2 separate regions of the Homo sapiens genome follow, and region 1 is linked to region 2. Evidence: fine-mapped expression QTL. Tissue or cell type: monocytes. Region 2 holds a variant in brackets; the other region holds the start of a gene. All regions are shown on one strand. Distances are between the middles of the regions.

Region 1 (8,745 bases), 25 kb after region 2:
GAAGAGTCTTGGTGGGGCCAGGCCAGGGACAGACTTCCCTTCAGGAAGCATTGGTATTCTCCTGGGCTCAGGGCCTAAGGAGAACCCAGGTCAACTGACTCTAACCCTGGGCCCCACAACAAGGACACTTTCTAGCGCTCATGAGCCCTGGCCAAGCACTTTTCACTTAGGCACAGGGCAAGATGGGGCTGGCTTCTGGGGTTCTCCAGCCTCAGGAAGGTGATTCTCATGCTTCTTCTAGTGATCTCCCCTGAGCCCCACACCCGCTTTCTTGCCTCCCCCCAGTGTTCTCTCCCCTGAGCTTGGCAAGTGACAGTGACACAGCCAACGCCACGGCCAAGCCCTCTGGCTCACAGAGGGGCCAAATGCACCCGGTGAACTTCCTTTTGGCCCCTGTTAGCAGAGTTGTTTTTTTTTTAAAGAAAAAACAGGAACCAATCACCTATACTGTAGTTAATTAACAACCACTTGGTTTTGATTGACATGAACTCCGTTCTGAGAAGGAGCTAAGAGCAGAGATTATGAAAGAAGCTCAGGAATTCTTCATAAAACAGAGGACTTGATGGTATCGGACCTCCGGAAAGAGGCTCACTGTTATCACTCCATAACCCCCGATCCTGATAGAGTCCCCCTGACCCTGAGTCAGAATCTCAGTCAGTGCTTCTTGAAGACAGGCGACCCTGCACCCTGGCAGGAGCCAGCACCCTAACTTCCAGTTGGACTTGGGTCAACAGGCCTGTGATGTCCCTGTAATGAGGCCCCTTTGTTGCCCAAGGAGTTGAGTCTGATTTGGGGTCCTGGAGCTTGTGACCGCATCAGCCACCAACCTGGGGCTTGGTTTTCCTATCTCTTAAAAGGGACGGTTGGGCTAAGAGATTTCTAAACTTCCCTTTTGCTCTAAAATCCCATGTAGAATTCGTTGACCTTCAGTGAGAGATTGAACCACCTTGACTAAAAGACTTGTCACTCGGGTTCCCCTTTTGGGAGGGTTGGGTAAGACTCAGCTGGTTCTCAGGGTCAGCTACAGAGAACCTTTTTGACTTCCTTTATGTTTAAAGACTCAAGGGAGGCCGGGCGTGGTGGCTCACGCCTGTAATCCCAGCACTTTGGGAGGCCAAGGCAGGCGGATCACCTGAAGTCAGGAGTTCAAGACCAGCCTGGCCAACATGGGGAAACCCCGTCTCTACTAAAAATACAAAACTTAGCTGGGTGTGGTGGCAGGCACCTGTAATCCCAGCTACTCGGGAGGCTGAGGCTGGAGAATCACTTGAACCCAGAAGGCGGAGGTTGCGGTGAGCCCAGATGGCGCCACTGCACTCCAGCCTGGGTGACACAGCGAGACTCTGTCAAAAAAAAAAAAGATTCAAGGGGAAAACAAGACTTGTCCGTGGAGGAGTCGGGGGAAAATGAGCCCAGGTCAGGCCCAGGGGCCCCAGCAGAAAGTAATCATCATCATCATCACCATCATTATTATTATTATTTTGAGACAGAGTCTCACTCTGTCACCTGGGCTGGAGTGCAGTGGTTTGATCTTGGCCCACTGTAACCTCCACCTCCCAGGCCCAAGCGATCCTCCCATCTTAGCTTCTCGAGTAGCTGGGACTACAGGCATGCACCACCACAGTTGGCTAATTTTTGTATTTTTTGTAGAGACGGGGTTTTGCCATGTTGCCCAGGCCGGTCTAAATCATCATTTTTATTTGAAATTTAGAAGGAGTTCTCAAATGTCTCCTCCAAAGCTCAGAGAATGCAATGTCAAAAGTGAGTGAATCTACTTCTGGGTATAGACCCAAAATCATTGGAAGGGGAGACTCAAAGAGATATCTGCATACTCATGTTTATAGCAGCACTATTCACAATAGGCAAAAAGTGGAAGCAACCCAGGTTTCATGGCAGATGAATGTCCAAACAACATGTGGTCTATGGCCAGACTTAGTGGCTCACACCTGTAATCCCAGCACTGTGGGAGGCCGAGGTGGGCAGATCACCTGAGGTCAGGAGTTCCAAGACAAGCCTGGCCAAAATGGCGAAACCCCACCTCTACTAGAAATACAAAAATCAGCCAGGCATGGTGGTGGGTGCCTGTAATCCCAGCTACCCAGGAGGCTGAGGCAGGAGAATCGCTTGAACCCGGGAGGCAGAGGTTGCAGTGAGCCAAGATCGCACCATGGCACTCCAGCTTTGTGACAGAGACTCTGTCTCAAACAAACAAACAAACAAACAAAATGTGGTCTAGACATATGATTGAACATTATTCGGCCTTAAAAAGGAAGGAAATGCTGGCGCATGCTACAACATGGATGAACCTGAAGGATTTATGCTAAGTGAAATAAGCCAATCACAAAAGGACAAATACTGTGTGATTCCTTATATGAGTCCCTAAAATAGGCAATTTCATAGAGACAGAAATAGATAGAGGTTGCCAGAGGTGAGGGGAAGGGAATGGAAGTTACTGTGTAATAGGTATGAAGTTTCAGCTTTATGAGATGAAACAGTTCTGTGGATGGATGGTGGTGATGGTTGCACAGCCATGTGGGTGTACTTAATACCATTGAATGGTACGCTTGAAAATGGCTAAAACGGGAAATTTTATGTTATATGTATTTTATCAAAATAAAAAGACAAGTGAGTGAATGAAACTCTTTCTGCATATCTCTATATTATAGACTAAAGCAGCTCCCATTGGCTTGAATTCCTGGCAAGGAACACACGAAAAGCCTCCCTCTAGACTAAGAGGGGGTGGTGTTTGCTGATGTTTCAACCAAGGGTCTGGATATTGTGGCACAGACAGTGAAGAATCCCATTTGATCAGGCTGTTTTCCCTGGGTGATCTGGAGCCATCTGGTCCCAGAGCCTTTGAAAATCCTTGTACTGTCCAATAAGATTCCCACCCACCCTACCCTGCCCCGCTGAAAGCTTCGGGGCAATGGTCTGCGCTGGTTTTGAGTGATTCCATTAATCAAACCGAAACCAGGTATAGCTCTCCAATGTTCCCCAAGAACTCTCTTCAGGAAGACCAAACTCTGACAGAAAGAGCAAGGGGAATTACGCATTTTCTTGTCCAAAGAATTCCTTCTGCAATACTTCCGAGGACAAGAAACTTGACACTTTGCTAGACTTGGAAGAAATATTCTGCCTGTTGCCTACTAAGAAACATGCAGGCGCGTCCAGGCGGTCAGGTGCAGCTCAGCTGGCTTCTAATATCTACCAGACTCATGCCCACAGATTGTAATCGAATTTACTCCCTAAGAACTCGTGAAAGCTCTGGACTTTCTCCCCGGAAAAATGTACACGGGCACATACCCACGGCGATTCTGCAGACCTCCTCTTCACAAGTCCTGTTTTAGAGTGAGCATGTCTCCTCAGATGCCTCAACACTTAAACTTGGTTTTTTTTCTCCAAAAATAGGTGGAAAGGGCTAACAACAGCCACAGGGAAAGGCGAGCTGAAACAGTACCTCTCCATGGTCGGTCCTATTGTTCCTGGAGCCTGGGCAGTGTGTGGGAGAGGGCAGCCCTGTCATCTCCCCTTAGTAGGCTCTGGAGGGGAGAGCGCCTGACTCTCAAAGTGTCCTGGGAATTTGGCTGGGCGCAGTGGCTAATGCCTGTAATCCCAACACTTTGGGAGGCTGAGGCAGGTGGATCGTTTGAGGTCAAGAGTTCGAGACCAGCCTGGCCAACATGGTGAAACCCGTCTCTACTAAAAATACAAAAATTAGCCAGGCGTGGTAACACGCGCCTGTAATCCCAGCTACTTGGGAGGCTGAGGCAGGAGAATCGCTTGAATTCGGGAGGCAGAGGTTTCAGTGCAATCGCACCACTGCGCTCCAGAGTCTCACTCTGTCTCAAAAAAAAAAAAAAAAAAAAAAAAAAAAGTGTCCCAGGAACTTTAGTCAAGTCCCTAAAGTCTGGGACTGTCTCCGAGGGGGAACACAACTCAGGCACTTGGAAGTGTGTCTCCCTGAGCACTGCCCAGGTCCCCAGGACAGCTGGGTTGTGGGTATGACTTTGTGCCCGAAGGTGACGTCTGTCAGCCTAAAATCAAATTTTGAAAAGTGTTTCTGCGCAGCCGGCAAAGGCGCAATTCCTAGCACAGTGGCTCAGACGAGGCTACGTCCTCACCCTGTTTCTCCCTTGGCTCCTTGCCTTCCAGAGCTTTTCCAGCCCACCTCACCTTTCCTAGGACCGCAGGAGGAGCCAGGGAGCCTGCTGTGAAGCCACCTGCGGCGCACAGGCACATTTCAAAACAAAAGCGTAGAAACGCATCCTCCAGCACTCACCTGTCCGGAGCTGTCCCTCGCCTGGGTTCTGCCGGAGCTTCCCGAGGTGGGAACTGCAAAGCCTCTCTCGGGACTGGCCTCCACTCTGTCAACTGTGTGACTCTTTGCACAAATAGATACTTCTCCTTTTTGCTCTGTCTCTCTGTGTGTTTTTCCTCTTCTGTTCCCCTCCCTGATTTTCAATCTGATTATTTGTGTCAAAATCTGGCGGTGAACAAGCAGCCAATGAAGAGAGCGCGGGAGCTCAGCCGTATTTGCTTATCAAAACTTTCCAGGACACAAGACTTCGAATTCTCATTTCTAACCCTCGACACTTGGAGCGGCACGCTTTCTCTCTGCAGAGAAATTCAGAATTTCGCTGGAAATTTTGAATAACATCTGCACAAAAAGAAAGTGATGGCTAAATTATTAAATTTTAAAAATTAAAGTTAGAAAAAGCTCTAACTTATAAAACTCGATTTTGCATAGGGAAGTCATTGCTCTTTGGTTTTTTTCTTCTTTCTTTTCTCTTGCCTTTTTTCTTCCTTCCCTCCTTCCCTCCTTTTTCCTTCCTTCTCTTCCTCCTTTCTTTCTTCCTCCCTCCCTGCCTCCTTCCTTCCCTTCCTTATTTTCCTTCTTCCTCCCTCCTTCTTTCCTTCCCTCCCTCCCTCCTTCTCCTCCTCTCCTCTCTCTCTCTTCCCTCCTTTCCTCCCTCCTTTTTTCCCTGCCTCCCTCCTCGCTGCCTCCTCCCCTCCCTCCCTCCCCAAGTTCAGCACCCTGAGGCTTGTGAGAGCCAGGCTGGTGCAATGCCCCTAGTACCCGAGCCGGCCACATGCATAGAGGCCCCTCTTGTCCTTGCAGAGGTCATATCTCAGAAGAGACATCAAATTTGCATTTCCCCCAGATATGACCTTTGAGCGGGTAGAGGCACCCTGGAGGTGTGGCAGTGAGTTCGGAGGCCAGGAGACGCTCGGCCTGCTGAAGCTGCCATACAGATTGAAGGCCAGGTGCCAGAGCCCGTGTGTGCTGCCCTCTGGTGGCAGACAAAGTGATGGGGAGGCCAGTGGGGGCCTCTGGGGTGTCCCATTGATGCTGGGGGGAGTGAGGGCGGTAAAGCTTGGCTGAGCTGGCTGGGGCATTTCTTCCCATTTGGCAGGGCGTCCCATCCCCTGGCTCCCCACCTTCTCCCTCCTCCTCTGGCCCCCGCCTCCTCCCGCTTGCAGGATGACTGATTTATTTCAGGAGGTTTTGCATAAGATGAGAACGCCACAAACAGAGCACTGTTAGGCTGCTTTGTCTGCTCTTCCAGCCCGGGTGCTGGAGATATTATGTTTCCCTCATAAAGAAAACAAGTCTGGTGACAGGAAGCCCCAATTTAAACTGCAAGTCCAAGGTTCAAAATGAAGAAAAAGGGGTGTTTCAGGCGAGGTCTTTCTGCTGGGCCAGCCCTGGAGCACCAGCCAGGAGGACACAACCCTGTGGTCACCAGGCCTCAGTAATGCTGGGGTGTCAGTCCCAGCCCCAGGCTACAGACAGCAGACCACTGCTCCCAGCTCTGTGGTCTCTCTTGGTGGAAAGAAACATCTTTTTAAAAAATTATTATTGGCTGGGCACAGTGGTTCACGCCTGTAATCCCAGCACTTTGAGAGGCCGAGGCAGGCGAGGATCACTTGAGATCGGGAGTTCAAGACCAGCCTGACCAACATGGAGAAACCCCATCTCTACAAAAAATACAAAATTAGCTGGGTGTGGTGGCACATGCCTGTAATCTCAGCCACTTAGGAGGCTGAGGCAGGATAATTGCTTGAACCCAGAAGGCAGAGGTTGCGGTGAGTCCAGATCGCACCATTGCACTTCAGCCTGGGCAACAAGAGCAAAATTCTGTCTCAAGAAAATTATTATTATTATTATTATTTTCTTAGAGACAGGAGTTGGCTTTGTAGCCCAGACTGGAGTGCAGTGTTGCAATCATAGCTCACTGCAGCCTCGACCTCCCTGGCTCAAGAGATCCTCCTGCTTCAGCCTCTTGAGTGGCTGGGACTACAGGCGCACCACCATGCCTGGTTAATTTTTTTATTTTTTTTAGAGATGGGGTCTTGCTATGCTGTCCAGTCTGGTCTAAATCATTATTTTTATTTGAAATTTAGAAGTTCTCAAATGTCTCCTCTAAAATTCAGAGAATGCAATGTCAAAAGTGAGTGAATCTACTTCTGGGTATAGACTCAAAATCACTGGAAGCAGAATCGAAGAGATATTTGCACACTTACATTTATAGTGGTACTATTCACAATAGGCTGGTCTTGAACTCCTGGCCTCAAGCGATCCTCCTGCCTCAGCCTCCCAAAGTGCTGGGATTACAGGCACGAGCTGCTGTGCCCAGCCAGGGACACATCTTGAGTATTCTGTGGGTGTTGTACATTGCCAACAATCAGCTAGAACTGCTTGTCATTATGCAGAAAACTTAAAATATTCTCTCCAAGTCAACAAGTCCCCAGTTTCCTCATGTTCTCACTTCCCTATACACACATACACACATTTTGCTACTGTAAACCAGCGTGTCATTTTCCGTGAAACATGATTTTATGGAAGTGCTTCCTAAGTTCGTTTGCAGCCTTTATTGACATCTTTAATGGTTTCACCATTAAATCTTTAATGGTTTCATGGTTTATCTCACCAAACGCTTCCTCCACTTGTTTAGGGTGTTTTCTAATAGGAAGCGGCTGTATCAGGCACATGCAGTTCAACTGCTGTTCTAAGATTGTAATCCCACTTTAGGGTCCCTACCTTCCCCCGTGAGTAACTGACACAGGGACAGCCTTCCCAGACCCAGACCAGGGACCCAGCCTGCAGATGAAGCCACCCAGGTTCCCCTTGATGGGAGAGCAGTGGCCAGGCAGCCAGTCCCCTGGCATAGCAGTTGAAGCCAGGAGTCCCCAGCCAGCCTCACCCAGGCCCTTACAGCCCTGGACTTCCCATGCTCTGTGTCCCCTCCAGGGCTGCCTGTAAAGCTACCAGCACTTCCCTTAGTGAGCAGCCCTGGAGTCAACACCTTCATTTAGTCTCTCCCAAGAGCTAAATCGCTTCCGCATTCCCATGCCCATTCATCAGTTTATTCATTCATTTAACAGTTACCATTAGGTACCTTTCGTGTATCAGCTCTTTCCTTCCCTCCCTTATGTAACACATGTGTATCGAGTGCCCACAACAAGGCACCACATGCTGGGGTTTCAAAAAACAGCCGGACTTTTCATATTCCTTCCTGGTCTAGAGGGTAGGAAAGAGCAACCTGAAATTTACAATTTGGGGTGACAAGTGCTGTGATATAAACATAGTATACAAAAGAAGCCTGGGGCATTTGGAAATGGACCCAGGCTTGGGGGGGTTGGTGAAGGAAGTGATATCTAAGTTGATGCCTAGGCTAAGTTAGTTGGGAGAAGGAAGGTAGGGAAAAGTGTCTCAAAGAAGAACAGCATTGTGCTAAGAGCTGGAGGTCCCCTGAAGGGAGCTGACAGCAGCCAAGTTCATTAGGGAAGAAACGCAGACTGAAGGAAGGGGAGGGAAGGTTAGGACTTTTGAGAGCTGAGCCTAGAGAAAGAAAAAGAACAAAGATCAGGAAGATTCTTCCCTGGTTTAAAAACCTTCAATAATTTCCCTTTACCTTTAGGACAAAAATCTCAGCTTCAGAGATCAATACTCCGTGTTTTTCACAATGTCGGCACCCTTTCAAATAACAGCACTTTTCCAGATGCGAGTTGCAGGAAGTTTCAAAAAGATGGGGTCTTGCTCTGTAGCCCAGGCTGGTCTTGAACTCCTGGTCTCAAGCAATCCTCCCAAGCTCCTGAGTAGCTGGGATTACAGGTGCATGCCACCGTGCCCAGTACAGAAACACAATTTAAACTCATTTAATAATAACAATGAAACAATTAATTCATGTCACAGAAAATTTTCAGCTTCTGACATGGTTGGATCCAGATGCTCAAATGATACTGTCTGGAATCTCACTCATTCAGGTCATTGGCACTTCTCGTGCCCTCTGCCTGGATGGCCTAACTCTCTGATTTCCCCAAGCCTGTCTCCTTCTTGTCATCCAGGTCTTAGCGGAAATGTTACTTCTGCAGAAAGACCTCCTTGACCTTCAACTAAAGTAGGACCTCCCCACCCCAGTCACTTTCTATTCCTTCACCCACCCCTTTCTTCTTAGCATTCACACTTATCTGAAAATATCTTGCTTGTCTTCCCTTTTTTTTTTTTTTTTTTTTTTGAGACGGATTCTGGCTCTGTCGCCTAGGCTGGAGGGCAGTGGCACAATCTCGGCTCACTGCAACCTCCTTCTCCCAGGTTCAAGCGATTCTCCTGCCTCAGCCTCCCGAGTAGCTGGGATTACAGGTGCCCGCCACCAAGCCTGGCTAATTTTTTTGTGTTTTTAGTAGAGATAGAGTTTCACCATGTTGGCCAGGCTAGTCTCAAACTCCTAACCTCAAGTGATC
Region 2 (8,745 bases):
CTCAGTTTCCATGTCTGTAAAACAGGGAAAAGTAGCTCCTGCTATTCTATGGGAAGTGCTCAGCTAGTGCCAGCCCAGGTCACAGCAAGTGCTAGGTACAGTTGGATGGTGCCATCTGGGATGGGTCCTCCAAGCCAATCAGATCAGATCAGATTGAGAGCTCATCCTCCCAGGAGATGGTGAGTGCTGTCCTTCAGCCAAACCTCTAGATCCAGGAAGCCGTTCTCAGACAGGTCCACAGTCCACACAGTGTCAGGTAGGACTGACAGTGGGCCTGAACTGTAATTCATGGTTCTAGGCAAAAGACTCGAAAGCACCCATTCACACGTATACTTGCACCCTGTTATCCAGGCCTAGGCACTCCATGCATTGGCCCCTTTGGGTGGGTAGACCCTTCAGTTTGCTTGCCTATCCATCCACCCATTGTCCATCCATCCACCCATCCACCATCCATCCACCCAACCACCATCCATCCATCCATCCATCCATCCACCTATCATCCATCCACCCACCCATCCATCCATCCATCCATCTGTCCATCCATCCGTCCATCCGTCCATCCATCCATCCATCCATCCATGCATCCATCCATCCATCCATCCACCCATCTGTTCATCCATTCATCCATCCACACATCCACCATCCATCCATCCATCCATCCAACCATCCATCCATCCATCCATCCATCCATCCACCCATCTGTTCATCCATCCATCCATCCACACATCCACCATCCATCCATCCACCCATCCATCCATCTATCCATGCTTCCATCCATCCATCCAACCATCCATCCATCCATCATTCATCCATCCATCCACTCACCCAACCATCCATCTGTCCATCTGACAAAAAGCATTTCCTTAATGAGTACTGGGGAAGCAATGGAGAATTTCATAGAACGTGTCACACAATGACACAAATAGCTATTTCATGACAATTATGATCAACATCAGAGGGCAGAATTTCTGGGGGATTTGAGAGTCTATAACTGGCAAGGGGAGGTTTTCTTGTGGGGTGCATGTGGGTTGGGTTTGGGATGACGAAGATAAAGAATTGGTGAAGTGAGGAAACTGCCTTCCAAGTGGAGGGAACAGCATTCCCAGAGCCTCAGAGGCAGGCAAAGCCAGTCTGGAAGGAGGAAGGAGAGAATGTCGCTGGGATTCTGGTGCTGTTGCTCAGACACCCACCCCTAGGGAGAAGTGGCTCTCCCTGCAGATCTCCCACAACCCTGAAGGTGCCTCCCTGCTCCAGCCCAGAGCAGGGCTCCCTGGCCCGTCTGCCATCAGTTGAGGGGGCATTACCTGCTCTGTTTCTCTGCCTGGACTATGCATGAGCTGTTTAGGGCTGGGCTCTGGTTTTCAAGTCTTCATTCAGCAGAGACCACTGTGCACATGGGCTTTTTTTTTTTGGCGGGGGCGGGGGGAGGGGTTACTAAAATATACTTAATAAATTTTACCTTCTTAACTATTTCTAAGTGTACAGTTCAGTGGCATTGGGTACATTCACATTGTTGTGCAATCATCACCACCAGCCAACACCAGAACTTTTCCCAAACTGAAGCTCTGTACCCATTAGACACTAACTCCCCACTCCCCTCCCCCAGATCCTGCCAGCCACCATTCTACTTTCGATGAATTTGACTACTCTAGGGACCTCATATAAGTGGAATCATCCTGTGCTTGTGCTTTTGTGACTGGCCTGTTTCACTCAGCATGATGTCCTCAAGGTCCACGTGTGGCATGTGTCAGAGCTCCATTCCCTTTGATGGCCAAGTCATATTTCCTAGCATGGACAGGCCCCGTTTTGTTTACCCATCATCTGTGGATGGACACTTGGGGTGCCCACTTTTTGGCTGCTGGGGACGATGCTGCTTTGAAGCCCACCAGCTTTTGGTACCTCTTTGGTGGAGTACCTTCGGCCAACTACACACCCACTGAGCAGTTTGTATTTTGCAAAATTTTATAGTGAAGGGACTGCAGACGTCGTCTTGACCAACTCTCTTCCTTTTGCAGCTGAGTGGAACCAAGTCCACTGGCTGCGGCGCTTCCTCTTCGCCCAGCTCTCTGCACGGTGGCCAAGCTCTGGGCCCTTAGCTCCTGGCAGGACCATATGTCCCCTGATCGGACTTTTGTGACACCGGGGCGCCCCACCTCATGCCTGCAGTGGTGCAACCCACACTACTCTAGAAAGTTTATGTGCCTGCTGCACACCCTCCTTTCCCTAGCCCACCGCAGCCATCCCATGGTGTTGTGGGAAATGACCTCAGAGAGCTTCCCCAGACAATGGAGAGTCTTTAGAATGCTGGGCAGCTGGACCCTTGGCCCTGGATACCAAGAGCTATGCAGGCACTTATCCCAAAGCCACCCCCATTCCAGCCAGATGCTGGTCCCCAACCCTGGGAAACAGAGACCAGGACCTGTGCCACTCCTGCTTGGCATGCACCTGGACTCCCCAGGACAGCCCTGCGGGTGGGTTTTCTTATCTCACTTTACAGACAGCATACGGGGCTAAAAAGTAGAGAAATGACTTGCTTAGAGCACCAGGGCCCAGCACAGAGTTCAGCTTCAAAGCCATCATTTCATTGTCCTCCACCAGCAGAGGAAGCCTAGTGACCGCCCCTTCCTACCCCCAGCCTCATCCCCACAATCACAGGGTCCCCTGCTGACAAGTGGCTCCCAGGGCAGGTCTCCCAGCCTAGCAGATCTCCTGGCTTGGAGACCCAGGATTTCTCCTGGCAAGGTCTCTAGGGCAGATGAGGCTGAGCTGCCTTCAAGTCCACCCAGGCCTCCCCAGAGGAGGCCCCCCTCCCAGGAATGGCATCCCAGCTCCTCCCTCCTCTGGGCTGGCTTCATGGGGGCAGACACCTTTACTTCTGCAACACAGCTGGGCTGCAGTCGTACAAGGGATCATGGTTTGCAGGCTGAGCTGGCAGAGGGACACCCCAGGGTGAAGGGCATTTGTGGGGCATCCTGTCATTGAACTTTCTCAGAAGGCCCTGCCCTTCTCTTTTTCCCTCCAAGGCAGTTGTTGGGATGGCAACATCAATGCTGGCCGTGGCACTTCCTCTTTGGCCAGCTCTGCACAGTGGCCGAGCTGTGGGCCCTCAGCTCCTGGCAGGGCCCTGTGTCCCCTGACCAGACTTCCGTGAGGCCAGGCCTCCCCACCCCACACCTGCAGCAGTGCAGCCCATGCTGCTCTAGGAGGTTTATCTGCCAGAGAGGCTTTGAGGGTGGGGAATGAGACCCTTATCTCCCTGCCAGGGGCCTGCCCTACAGTTAGGGCTTTGTAATCTGACATTGTGATTTTTCACTCTTGTTTTTCCCCTCATGGAGGGAAGATTTGCTGAATCACCCAGGGTGAGGTGGTTGGAGGAGGAGGGGGGCACCAGCTGGGGGGCAGTGATAAGTCTCAGGCCGGGCTGAGGGGCGCTGGGGAGCCACCGGGAGGAAACCCTTAACCGTGACGGTTTCCAGCTAAGATTGTAGGCTTCTAAAGAGCTGCCTTGGGGAGGCTGAGCTCAGGGATCCTGAACCTTCCTTCCTGAGGAGTGCAGAGGAGGGCCGGGGGTGCCAGGCAAGCCCCGTAGACATCCCACGAGCCAGCAGGGATGGGAAGGCAGGGACCGTGACCGTGGCAATGACCAAAGATGCATGTGGCTGGCTGCCAAGCCCCAACAGGATAGCCCCCAGGACCCCACTAGGTCACCCTTGCTTTGCACACTGGCCTCCTGAAGCCCTGAGAAGGCGCTGGCTAGAGCACTGCTCCCTAACAGGTTGGGCAAGAGCTGGGGGCAGGGGAGGCCTCTTGTCTCCCCCAGGGCTTTGTGCCCCGCTGTTTTCTTGGCTTGGGGCAGCCCTCTGCACTTCCAACAGATCAAATTCTTTTTGTCTTGCAAATGTC[G/A]ACTTCCCTCATTAGACTTCCCTTAACCCCAGGGCTGGGCTTAGTAACCCCCTTGGGCCTCCAGACCCCCCACAGCGTCTCCTCTCCTGGGTCTTGCCAAGGCCCTGCCCAGAGTGGACGCCCAGCAAATACTTGTTGAACAGACTTTGTACCCTGCGAGAAGTGGTCTTCTATTGGCACTAAGTCTGGGGTCTACAAAGTGGGAAGAAATCCCCAGAGGAGCTGGGCTGGCCCCCAGGAATGCCCTCTGTTGCAGAGAGGACCCAGCTGCTGGGAGTGGTAGACCCCAGCCTGACCTCCAGGTGCCCGACCCTCAGCCTCTGCTGGGGCTGGCCACACAGTAGAGACAGCTGTCCACCAGTGATCTCATGGTAGTGTACAGAGATGGGGTCGTGCTGGGCGCAGGGGGAGGGCTTGGAGCAGAAAGGCCAGGCCGGACGGTGCCTGAGGCTTCCCCAGGATGCTCTCTACGCGACTGACTTCTGATTCCCCTCAGAGTCCGGTGGGCAACCGCAGCTCCGGGGAAGATGGGTGATTGACACCCCTGAGTCAGTGGCCACATCCCTTGCTGCTCCCAAAAGGGGCTCCTGGGGCAGGAAGAGCTGCCCACGGTGGTCGCTTCGCTCCCTTCCTGCTGCCCAGCTGAGCTCAGAGATAAGTCCTTGCTGGGCTGAGAGAGGCCTGGGGCTTAGGCCTTCCCCAGAAATCATGTTCGAGTTCCCCATGTGGAGGAAGGGGCCTGACGGCCACGATAACCCCTCTATTTTTAAGAGATCCGGGAGGAAGTTCCAAGTCACCCTTGGCAGAAATAGCTCTGGGCTTCAGCCTGGTGTCTGTAGCTCCAGCTGTCGGCAGGGACAGCCGAGGAGTGCAGCAGGATTCAGCTCATCACAGCATGGGGGGGCCCACCTGCTCCCCACCTGCTCCCCAACCCCAGACTGGGAGGACCTGTGGCCCTGCAGGTCCAGCCCAGAACCTGGGCTCCAAGGTCAGAGCTTTTGGCAATGAAATAACAACTACATTTATTGTGTGCCTACCCCGCACCCTGAGCCATTCACAGCGTTCACAGGAAAGTGCTGTGATCGTGCCACAAACGTGTCAGAGGGAAGAGAACTGCCTGGGAAGGCATCCGGAGGAGGTGAGGCTTGAGCTGTGCCCAGGACAGTTAGGAGAGAGCTGAGCAAATCGGTAGGAGGAAAAGAGCCACTTGGGTAGAGGGGACAGAAAGAGCAGAGGTTGGGAGTCAAGAGGTGTCTACAGGAGGCTGAGGCAGGAGGATCATTTGAAGCCAGGACTAACTAGGCAACAGAGTGAGACCTCATCACTACAAAAAGTACAAAATTAGCCTGGAGTGGTGGTGAGTACCTGTGGTCCCAGCTATTCTGGAAGCCAAGGCAGCAGGATGGCTTGAAGCCAGGAGTTCAAGACAAGTCTGGGCAACACAGTGAGACCTTGTCTGCACAAAAAAAAGAAAAAGAAACTGGCTGAGCGAAGTGGCTCACACCTGTAATCCCAGCACTTTGAGAGGCTGAGGTGGGCAGATTGCTTGAGCCCAGGAGTATGAGCCCAGGCTGGCAACATGGCTAAACCCTGTCTAATACAAAAATTAGCTGGTTATGTTGGCACATGCCTGTACTCTCAGCTACTCGGGAGGCTGAGGTGGGAGGATCACTTGAGCCCAGGAGGTTGAGGCTGCAGTGAGCTGTGATCATGCCCCTGCACTCCAGCCTGGGTGACAGAGTGAGATCCTCTCTCAACAAACAAACAAACAAACAAAAAATTTTAAAGAAAGAAAGAAAAGAAAAGAAAAAGAAACTGAGGCCCAGAGGGCAGTGTCTGACCAAAGCCACCCAGCCAAGCAGAGTGACATCCCTCGGTCTCCTGACTCCATCCAGGGCTGTCCTTCCACAACCCCCTCTCTTGTGCAGGGAAACTCAGTGCTTCTTAATGAGGTCTCTCTGGCCACCCATCTAACTTGGTGATCTCCACGTCATCAACACCCCCACACCTTTCTTTTTTTTTTTTTTTTTTTGAGACAGAGTCTCACTCTGTCACCCAGGCTGGATGGCAGTGGCACGATCTCAGCTCACTGCAACCTCTGCCTCACAGGTTCAAGTGATTCTCCTGCCTCAGCCCCCAGAGTAGCTGGGATTACAGGCACCGGCTACCACGCCCTGCTAACTTTTTTTTTTTTTTTTTTTTTTGAGATGGGGTTTCACTCTTGTTGCCCAGGCTGGAGTGCAATGGCACGATCTCAGCTCACCGCAACCTCTGCCTCCTGGGTTCAAGTGATTCTCCTGCCTCAGCCTCCCGAGTAGCTGGGATTACAGGCATGCACCACCATGCCAGGCTAATTTTGTATTTTTAGTAGAGACAGGGTTTCTCCATGTTGGTCAGGCTGGTCTCGAACTCCCGACCTCAGGTGATCCGCCTGCCTCAGCCTCCCAAAGTGCTGGGATGACAAGTGTGAGCCACCGCACCTGGCCTAATTTTTGTATTTTTAATAGTTATGGGTTTTCGCCATGTTGGTCAGGCTGGTCTCGAACTCCTGACCTCAGGTGATCCACCCCTTTCTGCCTCCCAAGTGCAGGGATTACAGGCACGGGCCACCACGCCCGGCTTCTCTGCATTCTGTTTCTCCTGGCTTTGTTTAGTCTCTGCATCCCCGCTGAGCTCCAAGAGGGCGGGGATTTCGTCTGTTTTCCCCTCGGCCCGATCCTCACCACCTGTGGCAGGCACTCGATAGATATAGGAGTTGATGAATGAAAGATTTCTGACCTGTCAGGGTGGTCTTTGTGCCTCTGTGAGGGTCCTGGGTGCAGTCTCTCATACATGACTCCAGGGGACACACTGCTGGCTCTGCAGACACTGGCATGGCCCTCTGCTTGCACCCCAGGCTGGCAGAGGTGGGCACCTACAGACTGATCCTGGGCTGGGACCGTTCCCACCAGGTCAGAGAGCCTTGGTAGCAATGCCTTTTCCTTCTCTGCCTCTTAAAACAAATGAACAAATCACCTTTCTTTCCCCACGCCCTCCCCCAAAACATTGTTGTTATAGAAACCACGGAAAACTGTATATATGTATATAAAAGGGACTTAGGTGGGCGTGGTGGCTCATATCTGTAATCCCAGCACTTTGGGAGGCCGAGGCAGGTGGATCACTTGAGGTTAGGAGTTTGAGACCAGCCTGACCAACACGGTGAAACCCCATCTCTACTAAAAGTACAAAAATTAGCCAGGCATGGCAGTGGGTACCTGTAATCCCAGCTACCCAGGGAGGCTGAGGCAGGAGAATCGCTTGAACCCAGGAGGTGGAGGCTGCAGTGAGCCAAGATCACGCCATTGCACTCCAGCCTGGGTGACAGAGTGAGACTCCATCTCAACAAAACAAAACAAAAACAAACAAACAAAAGGACTTAAAAATCCACCCCACAAAGATAACCCTGTGGATGCCGGCGCCTGCCTCCCCCCGCCAGGTGGCTGTGCACAGCTGAGGACCAGGCTGCCCTGTGGCTGCACTTAGGGCTGGGAGGCATTGCCTCATGTGCGACTTTTCCTTGCAGATCACGAAGCACTTGTCGGACCTCCAGACCTCAGGGTGGGCGTGGAACCTCCCAGCTTTCCCTTCTCTTCCTGCTCTTCTTCCTCCTGGTCTCCTGGGTCCTTGCCCCCCTGCCTGCTCTCCTGCTCACTCTCAGACTCAGTTTCCCCAGTCATGAGGAGGGGTGTAATGTTGGAAAGCCGTGCCTCCCTGGATGGAGACAAGTGCCAGGCTGGACACCCCAGAGGGACTCACAAAAGATAACCTGAGCCTGACTCTCACCCGAGGCCTTGGGGCTTGGGGTTAGGGAGGAAAAGGGTTGGGGTGGGATGGAATGGGGTTCAAGTAATTAAAGAAGCAGCCCCCGGCTGCCTGGCCCTCCTGCTCCCAGGGATTTCCACGTGCATCCTGGAGCCCCAGGACCTTCCAGGAAAGGGAGTTTTTTCCCTAGGTCTTGCGGAAGAGCTGAGTAGTGGCAGCATTGTCTGGTGATCTGGAAGGCTATGCCTGGGTTTGATGGGGTCTTCAGCCTGTGCCTGCCCGGGGCTGATTCCCCACTGCAGTGGCTCAAGGCTGGGACGTCAAGGACCCCTGAGGAACCTCGGAGGCCTCTTCCTCCCCAGCTTGTCCTTTGAGTGAAGTGGGTGGAAGTCTCTCTCTCTCTCTCTTTCTCTCTCTCTGTCTGTGTCTGTCTCTCTCCCTCACTCTCTCTCTCTCTCCCTCCTCTGGTCCCTTTCTCCCGCTCTCTGGGCCACCAGGCCCCTGATAACACTTGGAAGGCGCTATCGGCTCAGGAGTGCCCTCCTGCTTGGCCCATGGTTCTACTCCACACCGACGGTTGGCAGCCGGCACCGTGCGATAAACTTATCAGGCCAAACCTGAGCATGCCGGGTCGGAACATGCCCTGCCTCAGATTTCCCTCCCGCAGCATCCCTGCAGCCCCCATCCCCCGGGAACCCTGGGTCCTGCCTGTCTCCGGGCCAGGCCCAACTCCAGCTAGACACCCATGGAGGTGGTCCCGGACAGCCCCTGACCCAGACCAGAGGAAGAGCTGGGGACCCTGTGAGAAGTCACAGGTCCAGTGTCCACCCCACTGTTCCCAAACCAGGCTGTCACTCTACCTACCTTGGAGGCCCTGCCCCAGCTGCTAAGAAGGAGTCGGGAGGTTGCATACCCATCCTAAACTTACTGGGGACCTAGTAGGCCCTGGCCCCAAAGGATAGGACCCAGCATCTGCCAGGAGGTGGCTCACAGAGTAGCAGGGTGGGGGCGAGACAGCCAGCACTTGTAAAGTAAAAAGTC

The links. PIP is the estimated chance that this variant, and not a neighbour inherited with it, causes the effect.
Region 1: GFI1B starts here. The variant in region 2 is fine-mapped to the expression of GFI1B in monocytes (TOPMed, PIP above 0.99). The same link has a PIP of 0.9 or more in non-classical monocytes.

The regions. Positions count from the first base shown.
Region 1 is chr9:132,974,376-132,983,120 of GRCh38, reverse strand. GFI1B (growth factor independent 1B transcriptional repressor) reads right to left here and starts at 4,427. Exons shown (of 7, transcript NM_001377304.1): 1 at 4,280-4,427.
Region 2 is chr9:132,998,910-133,007,654 of GRCh38, reverse strand. No RefSeq gene overlaps it. Among named protein-coding and RNA genes, the nearest start is that of SNORD141A, 17 kb to the left of the region's middle. RefSeq lists enhancers at 1,810-2,681, 3,159-3,453, 3,328-3,472, 3,556-4,429, 6,265-6,765 and cis regulatory regions at 3,392-3,409, 2,877-3,828, 7,927-8,745. The variant G/A (reference allele first, on the strand shown) is at 3,904.